Linked DNA regions of Homo sapiens: all the other regions are reported to be linked to region 4. Evidence: microRNA targets listed by miRTarBase, many of them from high-throughput screens and not tested one by one. Region 4 holds a microRNA gene; each other region holds the end of a gene's coding sequence.

Evidence for each region. Region 4 holds the annotated microRNA hsa-miR-507 (UUUUGCACCUUUUGGAGUGAA, at 1,323-1,343, shown strand). A microRNA usually pairs through its seed, bases 2 to 8, with sites in the 3' UTR of a target mRNA and lowers its output. Matches are read on the target gene's strand: a 7mer-m8 pairs with bases 2 to 8, a 7mer-A1 pairs with bases 2 to 7 and ends in A, and an 8mer does both.
Region 1: the mRNA of POGK is a reported target of hsa-miR-507. The part of its 3' UTR that is shown has no 7-base or 8-base seed match.
Region 2: miRTarBase lists ZDHHC7 as a target of hsa-miR-507. Seed matches in the 3' UTR shown: 7mer-A1 at 1,039-1,045, 7mer-A1 at 2,028-2,034 and 7mer-m8 at 2,342-2,348.
Region 3: miRTarBase lists VCAN as a target of hsa-miR-507. Seed matches in the 3' UTR shown: 7mer-A1 at 1,827-1,833.
Region 5: the mRNA of PHIP is a reported target of hsa-miR-507. Seed matches in the 3' UTR shown: 7mer-A1 at 540-546.

Annotation. Positions count from the first base shown.
Region 1 is chr1:166,849,813-166,852,985 of GRCh38, reverse strand. POGK (pogo transposable element derived with KRAB domain) reads right to left here. Exons shown (of 6, transcript NM_017542.5): 5 at 2,563-3,173; 6 at 1-401. The coding sequence ends at 2,577. Among named protein-coding and RNA genes, the nearest start is that of POGK, 12 kb to the right of the region's middle.
Region 2 is chr16:84,973,888-84,976,887 of GRCh38, reverse strand. ZDHHC7 (zDHHC palmitoyltransferase 7) reads left to right here. Exons shown (of 8, transcript NM_017740.3): 8 at 369-2,713. The coding sequence ends at 545. Among named protein-coding and RNA genes, the nearest start is that of ZDHHC7, 36 kb to the left of the region's middle. RefSeq lists an enhancer at 1-557.
Region 3 is chr5:83,579,975-83,583,147 of GRCh38, reverse strand. VCAN (versican) reads right to left here. Exons shown (of 15, transcript NM_004385.5): 14 at 2,986-3,168; 15 at 846-2,841. The coding sequence ends at 2,714. Among named protein-coding and RNA genes, the nearest start is that of VCAN-AS1, 19 kb to the right of the region's middle.
Region 4 is chrX:147,229,172-147,232,344 of GRCh38, reverse strand. It overlaps MIR507 (microRNA 507), which reads left to right and starts at 1,268; the gene lies at 1,268-1,361. It overlaps MIR506 (microRNA 506), which reads left to right and starts at 1,502; the gene lies at 1,502-1,625. The region is part of intron 2 of LOC105373347 (periphilin-1); the gene reads right to left.
Region 5 is chr6:78,937,941-78,941,113 of GRCh38, reverse strand. PHIP (PHIP subunit of CUL4-Ring ligase complex) reads left to right here. Exons shown (of 40, transcript NM_017934.7): 40 at 1-3,173. The coding sequence ends at 421. It also overlaps a transcript of IRAK1BP1 not described here. Among named protein-coding and RNA genes, the nearest start is that of IRAK1BP1, 72 kb to the right of the region's middle.

The DNA of each region.
Region 1 (3,173 bases), not on the chromosome of region 4:
TAGAAGGACACCAGAGTTGTGCCCATATGATGAGTCCCTCGTTGGTGTTGAATAAATTGTCTTTTCTCCAGGAAATAACCTTTGTTCTTTCATATTTACAGGTTTCTTTTGATGGACAGATGGAGTAATCTCCAAAACAAGAAATGGGGCAGAAGCAGTTTCTTTTCTGATCATGTCTCTGATGAAATGATAGGTCCTAGACTTTTCTGATACCTTGTATGGTGTGGGGAGGGGCTGGGCTGTGTCCTGGGATGGATGTACAGGCTGCTGTCTGGACCGGGGCTGTTCAGAGCCCCGTGGCCTTTTCCTGATGTTCCCTGCGCATCCAGCGCATCCACACTTTCAGGAATAATCATCTTGAGGAATTTCATCCCCAGCTGTTTAAATCAGAGTTCCATTTGCTGGAAAACAGAGAGAACCTAAATGAATTAACCCTTGGCTTTTTGGTATAACTTTTAACAAACATAATAATTCCATCATTCAGATTTCCAAATAGAGGCCAAGACGTAGTTTTATGCCCACTTGGTCTCCCAAATCTCTTGTTCACTGTGAATCTGTCTACTCCCATCACTTCCTCAGGAGCTGCAGAGAGAATTGTGGCAGACTAGAAGAGCAAAAGCTCATGACCAATATTACAGGCCAACATTCATAAATGCAACTTAGCATAGCTTTTTCTCCTTTCCTCTTCTGGAAGTTTTTAATCATGTCCCTGAGGTGGTAAGGAGCTTAGGAAATTAAAAGTGCACAAAAATGTTATCTAACAAGGAGAGGGAAAAGCAAAAGGTAAATGAAGAAAAGATGGAAACTCAATGTAATTCAGTTTGATATCCAATGCAGGCAATATAAGGGTCAGCAGAAAAGGGAGGCTGGATTCATGGGGTTTCTCAAAGCAAGGAGGACCCAAGGGGGAAAAAAAAGCAATTTTGGTGATTTTGAATGTAATAGTAAGAACTTCTTGCTCCATTGTAATTCCAGGGATCCCAGAATTACAATGGGATTCAGCAATATGAGTACAATTTAATTTGGAAGCAAGGCAGGAGACATAAGTCACTCTTTGAAACACAGATGGACTTATATAGCTGAAGTGGGTAAAATAAGGCTCCCATTAGCATTTCATTTGGAGAAAAAAGCAAGGAAGATGGAAATACCTAATTATACTTTAAAAGAAAGAAAAAGAATGTGTGAAGATGGTTGACGGTTTCAGGTCCTCTGTAAAAAAGGTGGCTTCTTCCTTCATATAAAACACTGTCTGGAGGATCAATTTAATTTATAATTAGGGAGATGAGAACGAACAGGTAAATGAATTGTTTGTTCTTTGTGGGTGTCCCCCCTGCTGTACATGCTCATCCTCCTCCTCTCTGGAGGTGTAGGTGGGTGGGGTCATTTCACTAGTGTTGTCTCAGTTAGGCCTCCATTCCTACTTTCCTTTGAAAGCTGTTCTTCTTGTGTACTCAACCCAGAAAATTCCAGGCCTATTGTCCTCAGCCCTCACTAGAGTCCTAGATACGCACCGTTTTATTTTCTTTTTTTGGTGTAAAGATTCAGTTAAAAAATATCTTCCTTCAGACATCTGCTGACTACAGGAAATTATTGTCATAGCCCATGTGAAGGTCATAATGAGACTAAGATGACGTTTTAAAACTCCTGAACTCTGTAGGGAAAAGCAAGTAGAAGCTATTATTCTTACTCGCTGGTAACATACTGTAGATAGCTCCAGGACTGAGACCCGAGGCCCGGAGGACACACTTAGTGTTCTCCCTATGTCACAGTCCTACAGGCCAGCAAAAGTGAGTACAACTGTCCCAGCATGTCAGTTACACATACTGGCCCTAAATGTTCAGCATAATTTAAAAGGGAAAGAAAAAAGTTGGCTTTTCAGACAAAATTTTGTGTGAACTGAACAACGTCAGACTATGCTTCTTTGGGTCCAAATAATTTTAACTTTACAGCTCTCAGATGTTCTGGCAGCTCATTCTTTGTTCATTTCACCTATTATACAAGTGTTTCTGGGTCCAAGCCACAGAGCAAAATAGACACAAATAAATCAAATAATAAATGTTTCATATAAAGGAGAAAATGCTAATGGTCTGTTATCTATACCAGCAGTCCCCAACTTTTCTGGCACCAGGGACTGGTTTCATGGAAGACAATTTTTGCAGGGACCCAGGAAGTGCGGGGTAGTGGGTGGTAGGATGGCTTTGGGATGAAACTGTTCCGCCTCAGATCCTCAGGCATTGAGGAGCCTGCAACCTAGATCCCTCACATGTGCAGTTCACAACAGGGTTTGTGCTCCTATGAGAATCTAATGCCGCTGCTGTGACAGCGGGCGGAGCTCAGGTGGTAATGCTTGCTCACCTGCCGCTCACCTCCTGCTGTGCAGCCCAGTTCCTGACAGGCCATGGACCAGTATGGTCCGTGACCTGGGGGTTGGGGACCCCTGATCTACACTACTGCACTGTAGGCTCTAAGGGAACTTAAAAACAGAAAAATAATGGAGAGAAGGTGTTTGTAGAACACAGACATGTCAGCAAAGGCACTGAGTATCTACTCCTGAGTGGTTACCTTTCCCTTTCCCTTCAGTTGCTCTCAGCCATGCTTTCGGTGTCACAATCTTTTGGTGGTTCTCCTCCTCCTGGCAACTCACTCTCGATTTCCCACAGGACATCGTCTTCCTCCTCCAAGTTGCTGGAGATATGGCACTTCTTGAACCCTTGGACGATGGACTCACTTGAGATGCTATTCCACGCGACCATGACCCACTCCAGAAAGAGGCCCAGGGGTGGCTTCTTAGCATTCCCGGTTGGGCTCAGCGCCAGGTTCCCAGCCAGAAGCCAGTTGGAGTACTGGGCCCGCACACTGTCATTCAGTGGCTTGTAGACCACGACATCCAGCACCTGAAGCTGTGAGGTCAGACCCCCTGGGATGATCACCATGTCAGTGTTCATGCTTTCCATGGAGTTCTTCACGGAATCTGTGGCATGGCCCCGGAAGCCATTCAAGATCAGCATCCCTCGCTGCTTGGGCACTGCTCCTGTCCTCCGTCTCCACACCACTTCCAACCAGTCCTGCATCAAGTCTTCAGTCATCCACCCATACCGGTGGCAGCGAATTTCCATCCCACTGGGAAACTTCCCCGGGGGGATATATGTTCCCCTCAAAATGATGTACGGTGG
Region 2 (3,000 bases), not on the chromosome of region 4:
AGAGCCAGGCAGATTCCCAGCTCCCAGTGCAGTCAGTAAATTTCAGGGAACTGACTGCCTTTAGGGCCTGGCTCTGCAGGCCTGGAGTGGCGCTCAGTAAATGTCTGTACACAGTAACTAACGAGCGACAAATGTTGGTGCCTGGCTGGGAGGGCCATTGTGGTAGTCTGGGCTGGCCACGTGGCTGCAGCCGGGCTGGGCTCACAGAGGCCACGGGGTCTGGATCGGGGCAGAGCTGGGAAGGAGAGTTCACTCACCTACCCTCCATCGAGCCCACACTGTGCTTGAGCACGGTGTGATTCTGAGGCTTGGTGGGGTCTGCCGAGCTTCCTGGAGCCGCTGCCACTTGCTTTTCTTTCTGCTTCCAGGAGATCGAGCGATTGAAAAGTGAGAAGCCCACATGGGAGCGGAGGCTGCGATGGGAAGGGATGAAGTCCGTCTTTGGGGGGCCCCCCTCACTCCTCTGGATGAATCCCTTTGTGGGCTTCCGATTTAGGCGACTGCCCACGAGACCCAGAAAAGGTGGCCCGGAGTTCTCAGTGTGAGGCGTGGCTCATCAGACTGAAACTTGCTCACAGACTTCCAGTTATTTATTTGGGGTCTGAAGGATATCAACAGCTCATCTGTGACCAACAGGGCAACTGGAACCTACACAAACCAATTGCTTGCAGCAAGCAGAGTTTTATATATTTATAGTCACAGATGGCAGAGGAAGAGGCTCTCAGTCCCCACCTGTACAACAACGGAAAGGTGTGTGGCCACACGAAGAAGCCAAACGCCGTGGCCTCCTGCAGAGCTGGGGCTTCTGTGGAGAATACTTCGGGTTATTACATGGGTTATTCAAATCCTGGGTCCTGAGCTGCTGTTTCCAATCATGAAGAAAAACAGTGAATCCAGTGAACAGGGATTCTCCAAGCAGTCATTTCAGGGGGCTCCTGCTGACCCCGCCACTCAGCAGTGCACTCCCCGGATCACAGCAGGGCGTTTACATAGAAAGACGTTTTGGTCTCGATTAGCTCCGATGCTTTGCACTGAAGTTGCAAAAGATCTGTGCACTGAACAGTGAAGGTGGCTTCCGGCACACTCCCCGCTGCCCCGGAAGAGACATCCTTTGACCCTCTCAGCAAGTCTGTGTGTGTGCGTGTCTGTGCGTGTGCGCGCGTGTGTGCATGTGTGTCAAAATTGCCAGTGTTGTTTAGGCAATGTAACATTTACCGGCTGTGTACAGCAAACAAGCTATTTTTTAGAAACCGACGTTTCAGGGAAGAGGGGAGAGAGCCGCGGGGTCCTGCCCGTGGTTACTATGAATGTATTGCTGTTGGAGGACATCTCGATCCAAAGAACAGCCGTTCCTGTGCGGCCCTTCGTTGCCCTCCTGCTTTCATTTTTTAAAGAAATCTTGAGTGCTTGAGGGCCTTGGAACTGATTTTTTTTTTTTGTTCCAGCCAAATTAGCAGTGTATAAATGGCACCTAGGTAAGAGCAGAGCTGCGGCTCGGTGACTTGATACTTGGGGCAGCCCGATGCTGTGTGTGGGGCAGGGGAGGCATCCTTACTGGAGAGGCAGGGCCCAGCCATTGGGCACCTCTGGGAAGGGGAGGGGACCATGAGGCAGCCAGCCCCTGGCAGGGGCGACTGTGCCACCGCAGGCAGCGCTCCAGTCGGGAATGGCCAGGATGGCGCCCTCTTGTTGGAGTTTTTGGTTAGCTTTTACGTTTTCTTCTCCACCCACGGCACAGGTGATAAAATAGGATCCTTGGTGCGGAGCTTAAAATTATGCCAGAAAGCCAACAGCTCCCCTCGTGGGGCCTTGCCTTAAACTTGCCTGGTTTGTACATTTTTTGCCGGACGCATCAAGAAGCAATCTGTGACAAAGTCTGAGGGTCTTCCTTTATGCTTGCCCTCCACACTAAGAGAAGTTGGCGTCTCCCTCCTGGGAATTGTTTTGCCTTTCTGTTCATCTGTGAACTGTTTTTTGTTTTTAATTACTCTGTACCCCATCCGAATCAGGGCTTCTACCACTGCTGATGCAAAACCACAAAGGGACCTACCTGAGCCACCGTCCTAGCCAAGCGAGCAAACCTGCAGGGGGTTTGGAAGTGGACTTGGTCACCGCAGAAGCGTGTGCGCCGTTGGGGGAAGAGCTGCGTCACAGCCAGAGGGACAAAGTGTGGGTGATCCTGGAGACGCCAGTTTCCGAGATTGTTCTGCATATTCATTTGCACATTGTTGTCTGGGTTGGACATGCGTGTGGGCTTCAGTGTGAGGCTTTTAATATGTATATCCTGTTATCAATAAAACAATTATCCAAGTGGTTGAATCCTGTGAGACTTGGCAAGTGTGTGCAAATCAAGTATACTTGACTTTTCAACCTCTTCTTTCAATGTAACTTTTATATGAAATAAAGTAATCAATTAACAGTTCTCAAATGGCTTCCAAAGCGCCCGTTCTTCCTGGATGGTGGTGTTTTCAGGGGGTGCCTTTCCGTGCTTCGTGGGCCCAGCCCCAGGCTGTTAAGGTCACTCCCAAACAGTTTCCAGAAACTCTAAATGCTTTTGTGCCCATGACAAGTGACCTGGGCACTCAAGCGCGACTCACAAATGTTGCCCAGTGAGTACTGTTGCTTGTTGAATGTTTAATTCGACTCCCATCGTTTTACTTAGTCCTTTTTTTAGTGCACGTTGAAATAAAAACAATGTTTCAAAATCTCCACAGTTCAGAATCTCAAGTACCTACAATTTGATTTTAATTCATTCAACAAATTTGTCTAACATTTGCACTGAGGGAACCAAAATGCCCACTTACCTTCCAGAGGCCAGATGGTCAGTGTGTGCCGCAGCCCTGCCTCGCTTACCTTTCAGAGGCCAGATGGTCAGTGTGTGCCGCAGCCCTGCCTCGCACGTGCTGTGCCTTGGGGCTCCTGGTGGCATTCCAGACACGCGGAAATGAGAAGGAGACTCGAACACGGAGGCGCACACCTGAGCCGGGCGGCTGCATGGGC
Region 3 (3,173 bases), not on the chromosome of region 4:
CTCAGAAAGGAAAATAATCTCTTCTCTTCCACACTTATTCATGCCAAACTCCCTGTATATTTTTGACATTTCTAGAAAGAACCTTAAAATAATTTTCAGCTCACCTTTGACCTTTATATCTTTGATATAACTTTGGAGCATAAAATGTATTGGTTCTTCCAGATTATCAATAAAGATACTGAATAGAATGGGTTCTATGATAATTTCCATGGGATGCAGCCAGTATAAAAACTTTATGTGGGCAGAAACCTGTCTACCGCATCCACTGGTGAATCTTCAGAGCCTATTACGGTGCCTGGCACACATTAAATCCTTAAATAATGAATGAATGAAAACTGAAGGAACGGATGGATATCTGAATGGGTGATAACCTCTTAAATGCATAACAATCAGGGATATAATATTTTACATTTTTCTTGGAAATTCTGTGTGGGCTGTAGGGATTACCTGCTTCTGCTACACACTAACTGCATGATTTTGGACAAATAACGAGCCCTCTATGCCCGATCCCTTATCAGTCAGTAATGATGACCCCTGTTTCATAAGCTTGTTATGATATATTACATGTAAAATACTTGCCTTGGTTCATAGGAAGATTTCTGTGATGTGAGCTATCACTTTTCCCATTGCATAGTTTCCATATTTGAAATTAATACATAGTATTCAGATGAAAACATTATCAGAATTATTATCGCAACTTTTACGGGTAAATATATAATCATTTCTTTGCTTGCCACAAAATCATTTCATCCAGGTTAGAAGCTTGCTCTCCATGATGGAACCAGAATGTAAAAATGTTGGTGCACATAAGGATTTAAAGTTGTAAATAACCAGACCAGTCACAGTGTAGTAAAAGAAGGATTTTAGGTTTCTTTGGTGAAACAAAAGCAGATATAAAAAGTTACAAAGATTTTAGATTTTCATTCACAAAAAAAGTCATTCACATTTTACACTATACACGTTATGATATAAATACAGGAAAGTATTATGTGCATTGTAAAGAGAAAGGAAAAATAGAAACCTACTAGATCAACACAGTGTTGTTCTGTGCTCTAAAATACCTAAAGGTGGATTACATTTAATGCAACAACCAAGGGAACCTGCTTAAACATACTGTGTATTATTGTAGCTAGAGTCATTCCTTCTAAGCCAAAGGAGGTTTTATAAAAAAAGAATCAATATTGGGCCAATCCCTTTGTGCCCTTTTTCTCTTTTTCTATGTGCATTTTATTTTTTGTCTACTCTTCTTCAAGTTGCTCTAAACTGAAATTAGGGAAGGAGTCTTACTTTCCATTACAGGTTTTTCTTTAAACATTAAATTAAGTGGATAAGGATTCAAAGTCATCTTCAGCAGTCACTTTATTCAAATAATGGGGAGAAAACAGAGTGGGAAGAGATGGGGAGAAATGTCAACACATACACTCCACCTAACAGGAAGAAATGCCCACACTATTTCTATATATTCGCTCATTTCTTAGAATGGGCAAACACCTTTTGCTAAAAGCTATATACTTTTCCACTCTTTTCATAATAAACACTTGATGCATTCTATCCGTCACATTATTTAATCAGGGACAAAGTACCTATATTATATGATTCCAAATTGTGTGAGGAAAGTAAAAGGCTAACACTGAAAAATAACTAGCATACTATGTTCATTTTCAGGTCTTAGGGAAAATAACATCCAATAAATTAAATCAGTATGGCTTACTTCATTTATTTATGTATGCTTCACAGCTGCAGCATTCATACATGAACATTCAAAACTTTATAAAAGATTAAAATGGTTATATATACAAAATTTCTTTTTTTTTTTTTTTTTTTTTTTTTGCATGTGTTTTAACAATCCCCCACCCTCCAGAGCCCTAGGTCTATATCCGTATGAAATGCATTGATCGGTAACCTTATGAGTTAGTGTTATGAAAGCCATTAAAAAGTAGACCTGGTTGAGTTAATTATTAGCACTTTGACCCCTAAAAAATGTTCCTGGTTACAGAAAAGTCCTCCATTCAGGCCTTTCTTGTAAGTGAAGAAAAAGGAATGCAGCAAAGAAGAGTTCGACATTGGAGTCCTTAGTTCCATCAGGATCCCATTCGCAGCCTTTAGCATCATGTAGAAGCAAACTGCACCTATGGCTGAGATAGGTGCAATGACCTACAAGATTTTGTGTTTTCTAGCTGTCCAGGAAAAGCCATCTTCAGTCTTGCTGACAGTCAAAGAGCAAGTGAAACCATTTCCAGCCTAAACTACATAAAAGCAGCCGAACCAATGATTAAAGACCTCTAAGGCTCCATAATCATCATTAAATATGCCCAAACTCATTGTGACTTTTTATTTTATATACAGGATTAAAATCAACATTAAATCATCTTATTTACATGGCCATCGGTGCTGAAATTGAGCATTTTAAATAGTACAGTAGGCTGGTATACATTAGGAAATGGACTGCACTGGAGGCAAATAGAAAACTAAAGAAATTAGATAGGCTGGAAATGCTTACTTTCTGCTCTCATTTTCTTTCATTTTGTCTGCTGTCTTTTTGAATGCCAATACTTTCATTTAAAATGTTTTGGGAGCACGGCAACCCAAAATGACTGAACGGTGGTCCAAAAATCCAAACCAACTGATAATTACTTCTCGAGGTGATAGGAAAGGCACAGGAAGTTAGGACTTTGGCTGAAATGATGAAAACACATGTTCGCCATTTTAGGGATCAGCGCCTCGACTCCTGCCACCTCCGGCTCCAACGATGATCATGTTTGGATGTATTTATTGAATTGTCCTTTGCTGATGAGGAATTTTTAAAGTATTTCATAGAATAAGTCCTTTGGTATGCAGATGCTACATGGAAGGAAAGAAAGAAAAAAAGAAAACACACAATATTACTTGCTCCATACCCTAAACTGCCGATACCACAGCCGTAAAATGAAGGTGTCTAGTAGTTGTTATAGCACGGTAGTCCATTCTTTCTAAAGGACCACTTACGGTTCATGCAGGTAATTTTAGGTATAGCCCATCTTCCATTTCCTAAGCACCGGATAGTTGGAAGGTGACGTTGAATGAAACCATCTTTGCAGTGGTATCTAATCAGGGAGTTGATTTCATAACGAGGTTTCATCTTTCCAAAGGTCTTGGCATTTTCTACAACAGGGGGCTGGCCGCAAGCGACTAAA
Region 4 (3,173 bases):
GTGAAACCCTGCTTCTACAGAAAATACAGAAAATTAGCTGGGTCTGGTGGCACATGCCTGTAATCCCAGCTACGTGGGAGGCTGAGGCAGGAGAATCGCTTGAACCCAGGAGGCGGAGGTTGCAGTGAGCTGAGATTGTGCCATTGCCCTCCAGCCTGGGCAACAAAAGCAAAACTCTGTCTCAAAAAAAAAATTGTTACTCCTTTATTGTTTTTTTAGTTGACACATAATAATTTGTAAATATTGATGAGATATAGTGAGATGTTTTGATACATACATGCATTGTGTAATAATCAAATCAGGGATTTAGTATTTTCATTACCTCAAACGTCCATCACTTCTTTGTGGGAAGAACATTCAAAACCCTCTCTTCTAGTGATTTTGGAATATACCATAAAATATTGTTAACTAACTATAATCAATCACTCTTCTGCACAATAACACATCAGAACTTTTAGCCCTCCTAACTGTGACTCTGTACCCATAAACCAATTTTTCCCCAACCCCCCTTTCCCTTCCCTTCCCCAGACTCTGGTAACCATCATTCTACTCTCTACTCCTATGAGATCAACTTTCTTAGACTCTGCGTATGAGTCAGATCATGCAGTGTTTGTCTTTGTGTTTGCATTGCCCTATTTTGTGAGCATTCGTTTTGGGGTTGTTTGTTTCATTGTTCACATGTTTATTTGCATGTGTGGCATGCATGTGTTCACATGTGTTGCAGATATTTCTTGGTCTAAACACTGGTTTGCAAGTGCATGACTGTGGTGACTACTGCTTCTGCTGCTGTAGGCCTTCATCTCTGAACAGAGGATGCCAAACCAAGGCCCCAATGATATAAAGAAGATTCAAATTGGAAAGAAGAGAACTCTCCAGCACTGCTTCAACTGAGCTCTATCTGGCCTGCAATCGCTAGATATGATGAGTCACTTGAGTGGTCCTTTCTATGTAATGACTGGCTTTTGAGGCATATGAAGTAGTTGTTCATGTGCCAACTATATTAAATTGAAAATTAGCAGAACAATTTAGTGAAGTATGCTAAGTCTGGGAGGAAGAGGGAAAATTTTCTCTCTCCTAAAATCTGTCTCATTAAATGTGCAGCAGGTGAAGTAATTAATAAGCATTCAGTGAAAGACATAGGAGACAAAAGGGAGAGGAAAAAGGGTTTGTTTTTTTTTTAATCTATTGACTATATTCTGCTTATTCCTAGTGGACTGAGAGTGTTGGGATTCTGACTGAAATGGCGGAGTGAGGGACATTTTCCGCTGTGCTGTGTGTAGTGCTTCACTTCAAGAAGTGCCATGCATGTGTCTAGAAATATGTTTTGCACCTTTTGGAGTGAAATAATGCACAACAGATACAAGTCAGAACTACCCACTCAGTGATGGGTCAACTCATACAACCCTTTAAAGAGAATTCTGTGGGGTAAAACCTAGAGGATGAGGTTCTCTGGGAATAGCCTCATCTGTAGTTTCCCCGTGTTACTATTAAGATGGTCAGTGCCACCACCATCAGCCATACTATGTGTAGTGCCTTATTCAGGAAGGTGTTACTTAATAGATTAATATTTGTAAGGCACCCTTCTGAGTAGAGTAATGTGCAACATGGACAACATTTGTGGTGGCATTGGTAATGACGAGTGGAATTTCAGTGACAATACTGCCCTCCCTTGAGCCTTGGTACCCAACCTTTAGTGATGAGCCATTTCCAGGTACTCTCTGAAGTACCTCTTGAGAGATCTGCTCCAGAATCTGAGGGTGCCTGGGAAAAGTCTCTCATGTAGGTTTTTCAATTATTTATTGCTTTTTCTCCACAAAATGACTGACTACACTGGAAACAAGATTTGAGGTAGGAACATGATACTTCTTTTTCTCTTGTACCTCTTAGTCTTTTCTCTCTATAACAACCCAAATACACTTCTTGCCTTATAAACCCCTGAGAAGTTTACACTGATCTTCTTTCCTCACAATATTTAAGCCTTCTTTTTAGGGAGCACAAATATCCTCCTGCCCTTCCCTGCTGAACTCCAAACTCCATGAACCATCTTTCTTATGAAGTGATCTCCTCAAGGCTTAGATACACTCAAATTCCCTTTAATATTCCTGTGTATCCGTGATGATAATCTCATATCAGTGGAGTTTGATATGATACCCCAAATTTGCTTTCATTTGAACTATTTATATGTTTTTAGCTGGTCTTAACTATTATGGGAACGGATGAAGTGATGAGAACATATATGTATGAACATGTGTGTACATATACTTCTGGAAACTTTACATATACAAAGGGGTTTATATATCCCTTTATATATATATATATATATATATATATATATATATATACACACACACACACACACACACACACATACATATGACATTCACAGAAAAAGGAAAAGGATGCAGAAAAAGGATCATGTTCCTACCTCAAATCTTGTTCCCAGTGTTTTGTAGTCCTTTTGTGGAGAAAAAGGAATAAATGCTTAAAAAACCTACAGGACATACTTTTCACAGGTACCCCAGGCACCCTCAGATTCTGGATCAGGTCTTATAAGACCTTCAAAGAAACACCCAGGACAATGATTGAGCAAATATATATGTATATAATTATTATAGAAGTCTATTTTTAAAATAAATCCCTTAAGATATTTATTATAAGGATACTGCAAGGAATAACCTCAGGCAACTATGGAGGCTGGTGAGTTCCTAGATCTGCAGGGGGATGGGTCAGCAAGCTGGGGACCCAGGAGAACTGATGGTATAGTTGCAGTCCAAGTCCAGAGGCCAAAGAAGCAGTAGAACAAACCATTTTGTAGTTCCAGTCCAAAGGCCAGCAGGTTTGAGACCCAGGAAGAGCTAATGTTTTAATTTGAGTACAATGCCAGAAAAAAATGAGATGCCCCAGTTTGGAGGCAGTCAGGCAGGAGGAATTCTCTCTAACTTAGGGGAGAGTCAGCCTTTTTGTTCCATTTAAACCTTCATCTGATTGGTGCAGGCCCATCCATCCACATTAGGGAGGGTGGTCTGCTTTACTCATTCTACTGATTTAAATGCTAATGTCATCCAAAAAGACCTTCACAGAAACACCCAGAATAATGACTGACCAAATGTCTGGGCACTCCATGACCCAGTCAGGTTGAAATATAGAATTAATCATCACAAGTTCACTCCTTG
Region 5 (3,173 bases), not on the chromosome of region 4:
CAGAGATGAAGTACTTCCTTCTTCAACATGCAATTTTCTTTCTGAAACTAATAATGTAAAGGAAGATTTGTTACAGAAAAAGAATCGTGGAGGTAGGAAGCCCAAAAGGAAGATGAAGACACAAAAATTAGATGCAGATCTCCTAGTCCCTGCAAGTGTCAAAGTGTTAAGGAGAAGTAACCGAAAAAAGATAGATGATCCTATAGATGAGGAAGAAGAGTTTGAAGAACTCAAAGGCTCTGAACCCCACATGAGAACTAGAAATCAAGGTCGAAGGACAGCTTTCTATAATGAGGATGACTCTGAAGAGGAGCAAAGGCAGCTGTTGTTCGAAGACACCTCTTTAACTTTTGGAACTTCTAGTAGAGGACGAGTCCGAAAGTTGACTGAAAAAGCAAAAGCTAATTTAATTGGTTGGTAACTTGTACCAAAATATTTTACTTCAAAATCTATAAAGCAGGTACAGTTAAGGAATAAGTAGAACTAAGGCTTCTGCTTCCTTGCTGCTGTGGTGGAGTAGGGAATGTTATGATTTGATTTGCAAAAAAAAAAAAAAAAAAAAAAACAAACTTACGAGACACTTCACTTCTTTAAATGAATATATATATATATATATAAATATATACATATATATTTTAAATGTTTGCTATTTATTGCCCTTAGATAGGTTATGCATTTTCACATTCATTTCATTCACTGTTTGAAACGAAAGAAATTGATCTATAATGAATTCCTGATTTATTTATAGAAAAGACAATTCTGCTACACTCTTTAGGAGCATAATATTCCTAGTGATAGAGCATTTCATGTTAAAATGAATTATTTTTGACCAAGTGAGGTACATTTCTATTGATACAAGTCATGCCCCTAAAAGATAGATGTTATACAGAGTAGCAGTGAATTAAGAAATGTTTCCTCTAAAAGATAAATATAAAATTTCCACCATTTGATACCCTAAACAGTTTAATTTTAATTATAGAATGTTCATCTACAAAGTATCTAGAGGAGGCTTTTGCTTTATTCCATTTCTGCCAAACAAGAGAAAATGTACTGATGAAGGGAAACATATCCACATTGGAAAACATTTGACTGTCTAATTTTTCAGACCTTGATTCTTATATCACTCAATCTCTGTTTATTGTGCCAAAGACTGAGAATCAGTGCAGTGGAAAGCCTGTTTTTGACGTCAGGACAGCATACACTTTTCAATATTGGAAAGGCTATATATTCTAAAGAGCAAGTTATTAAAGAGTTATGCTGAGATATATCTTTTTTTGGTACTAATAGAAAATAATGCACTGGTGGGTCCTTTGACAGAGATGTTCTAGAGGAAATGTTTAAGTGGTTAAAGGATTCAAGGAAAATACAGGAAAAAAGGTATGGGATTTGATGTTTACTTGTTGATCTGGATTAATGTCATTTCTAAACTTTAGACATATCTAATAGCCTAAAATGACTTACAAAGAAACGTGTCTGTGTGTGTATGTGTATATATTGATAAATGGGTATAATTAAATATATATACAAACACATACTTATATACTATTACCCAGGTATAAATTCTTTTTTCAGGATTTTTTAGATAGCAGTAGAATAAAAATAATTTTAAAATGTCATACTTTATAGTTTAATTTTAAGGGGGAAATTGGTTATTTTCAATTATTAAAGGTTAAAATAGGCCAAATCACTTTTTATGCAATCATGTTTTATACAGTGGTCTCATTGCACATTGTGTTTTTTCTGCACTTTTTACGGTATCCTTATCATGCTGGTATGTCAATATACACCCTAAAGAAAAACTCCATTTAATGATTGTGCCTTGTATTCTATTATTTTTTGCATCATTAGTAAAATTAAGTTGTCTATTGTAAATGATAACTATATGACTTAGGAGAATGTATTGCTATATGTACTGCTATGGAAAAGGAAAGCAGTTATTTATTTGTTTATGGTACAGTTAGTTATTTTATACCTTAAAAACCAACATACTTACCATTTCTATTGTTTAAAAATTACTGTCCATTTTTTTAAAAATTTAAAGAATGTAGTATTTTCTGAGGACTGGTATGGTACAAAAATGTAATCAAAATTTTCAGATACTACATTTTTAAAAAGTGAGGATGGGGAAAATATGTATCAGCATGACCCTGATGTAGAAAAATAAAGTCTGCAATTGAACCTTGGCAAAATACATTACATAATTATTTCTGATAAGGATAAATATTAGCTGTCATTTAACTGTCGTGAAGAATGAAAAAGTGATACATTTGGGCTTTTTAGATCATTTGTAACTAAATTTGTACAGAAATTCTCCTGTGAAATTAAGTAAACCATTTTCCAGATCTTGACTGCATTGCTGAGATTTTGCAGTTGAAAAATAATTTCAAATTTTTCAGGTTTTTTGTATATTTATTTTTTTCTAACAAATATATTTAACTATAAAATTAAAATTCAGTAGTTAAACTCTTCATAATGCAGAAATGGATGGCTTGATTGTATAGAAAAATGAGTCTTTCAGTTACACCATTCTTGAAAATAATAGTGTATGTTTGAAATTTGTCATTAATTAGTTGCTTTTGAAGGCAATCTATTTGAAATATGTAATTTCCTGATGTTATCTGCATTGTGTTAAGAAAAAAATAATAGGCTATAAAATCAATTTTTGTAAAAAAAATGTACAGTTTTAAGTTGTGTACAGAAAAAGGAAGAGCGTACACAGTCTTAGAGTGGAATATACCTCTAGTACAGTGTATGTGTTAATTCCAACTCAAGCAAAGAAATGAGTATTTACCATCTTTCCTATAACATGTAAATGTATTATTCCTGTTCTACAGACACTGTATATTTATGACCTTATTTGGACATTATTAGACACTGGTTTCTTAGTAAAGCACAGTAACTTGGATCAGATTCTTTGTAACCGAAACACTTAAACATGTATTAGTAATACCAATATATTTAGATTTTATATTTTTATAATTTAGCTTCTATGCATTACAGAAGTTGAATTAAGAAATTTAAGTCATCACCATATTTTTGTTTTCTTTACCACTTGGGAAAATAATCCTCTTTGAGGCAGTAACACTATGTATGTACTGTTAATAGGCCAGAAAGAAATATTGGCAGTTGTCTTAGGTAAGCAATAAAAACATCTCCAATTTACTGAAAGTTCA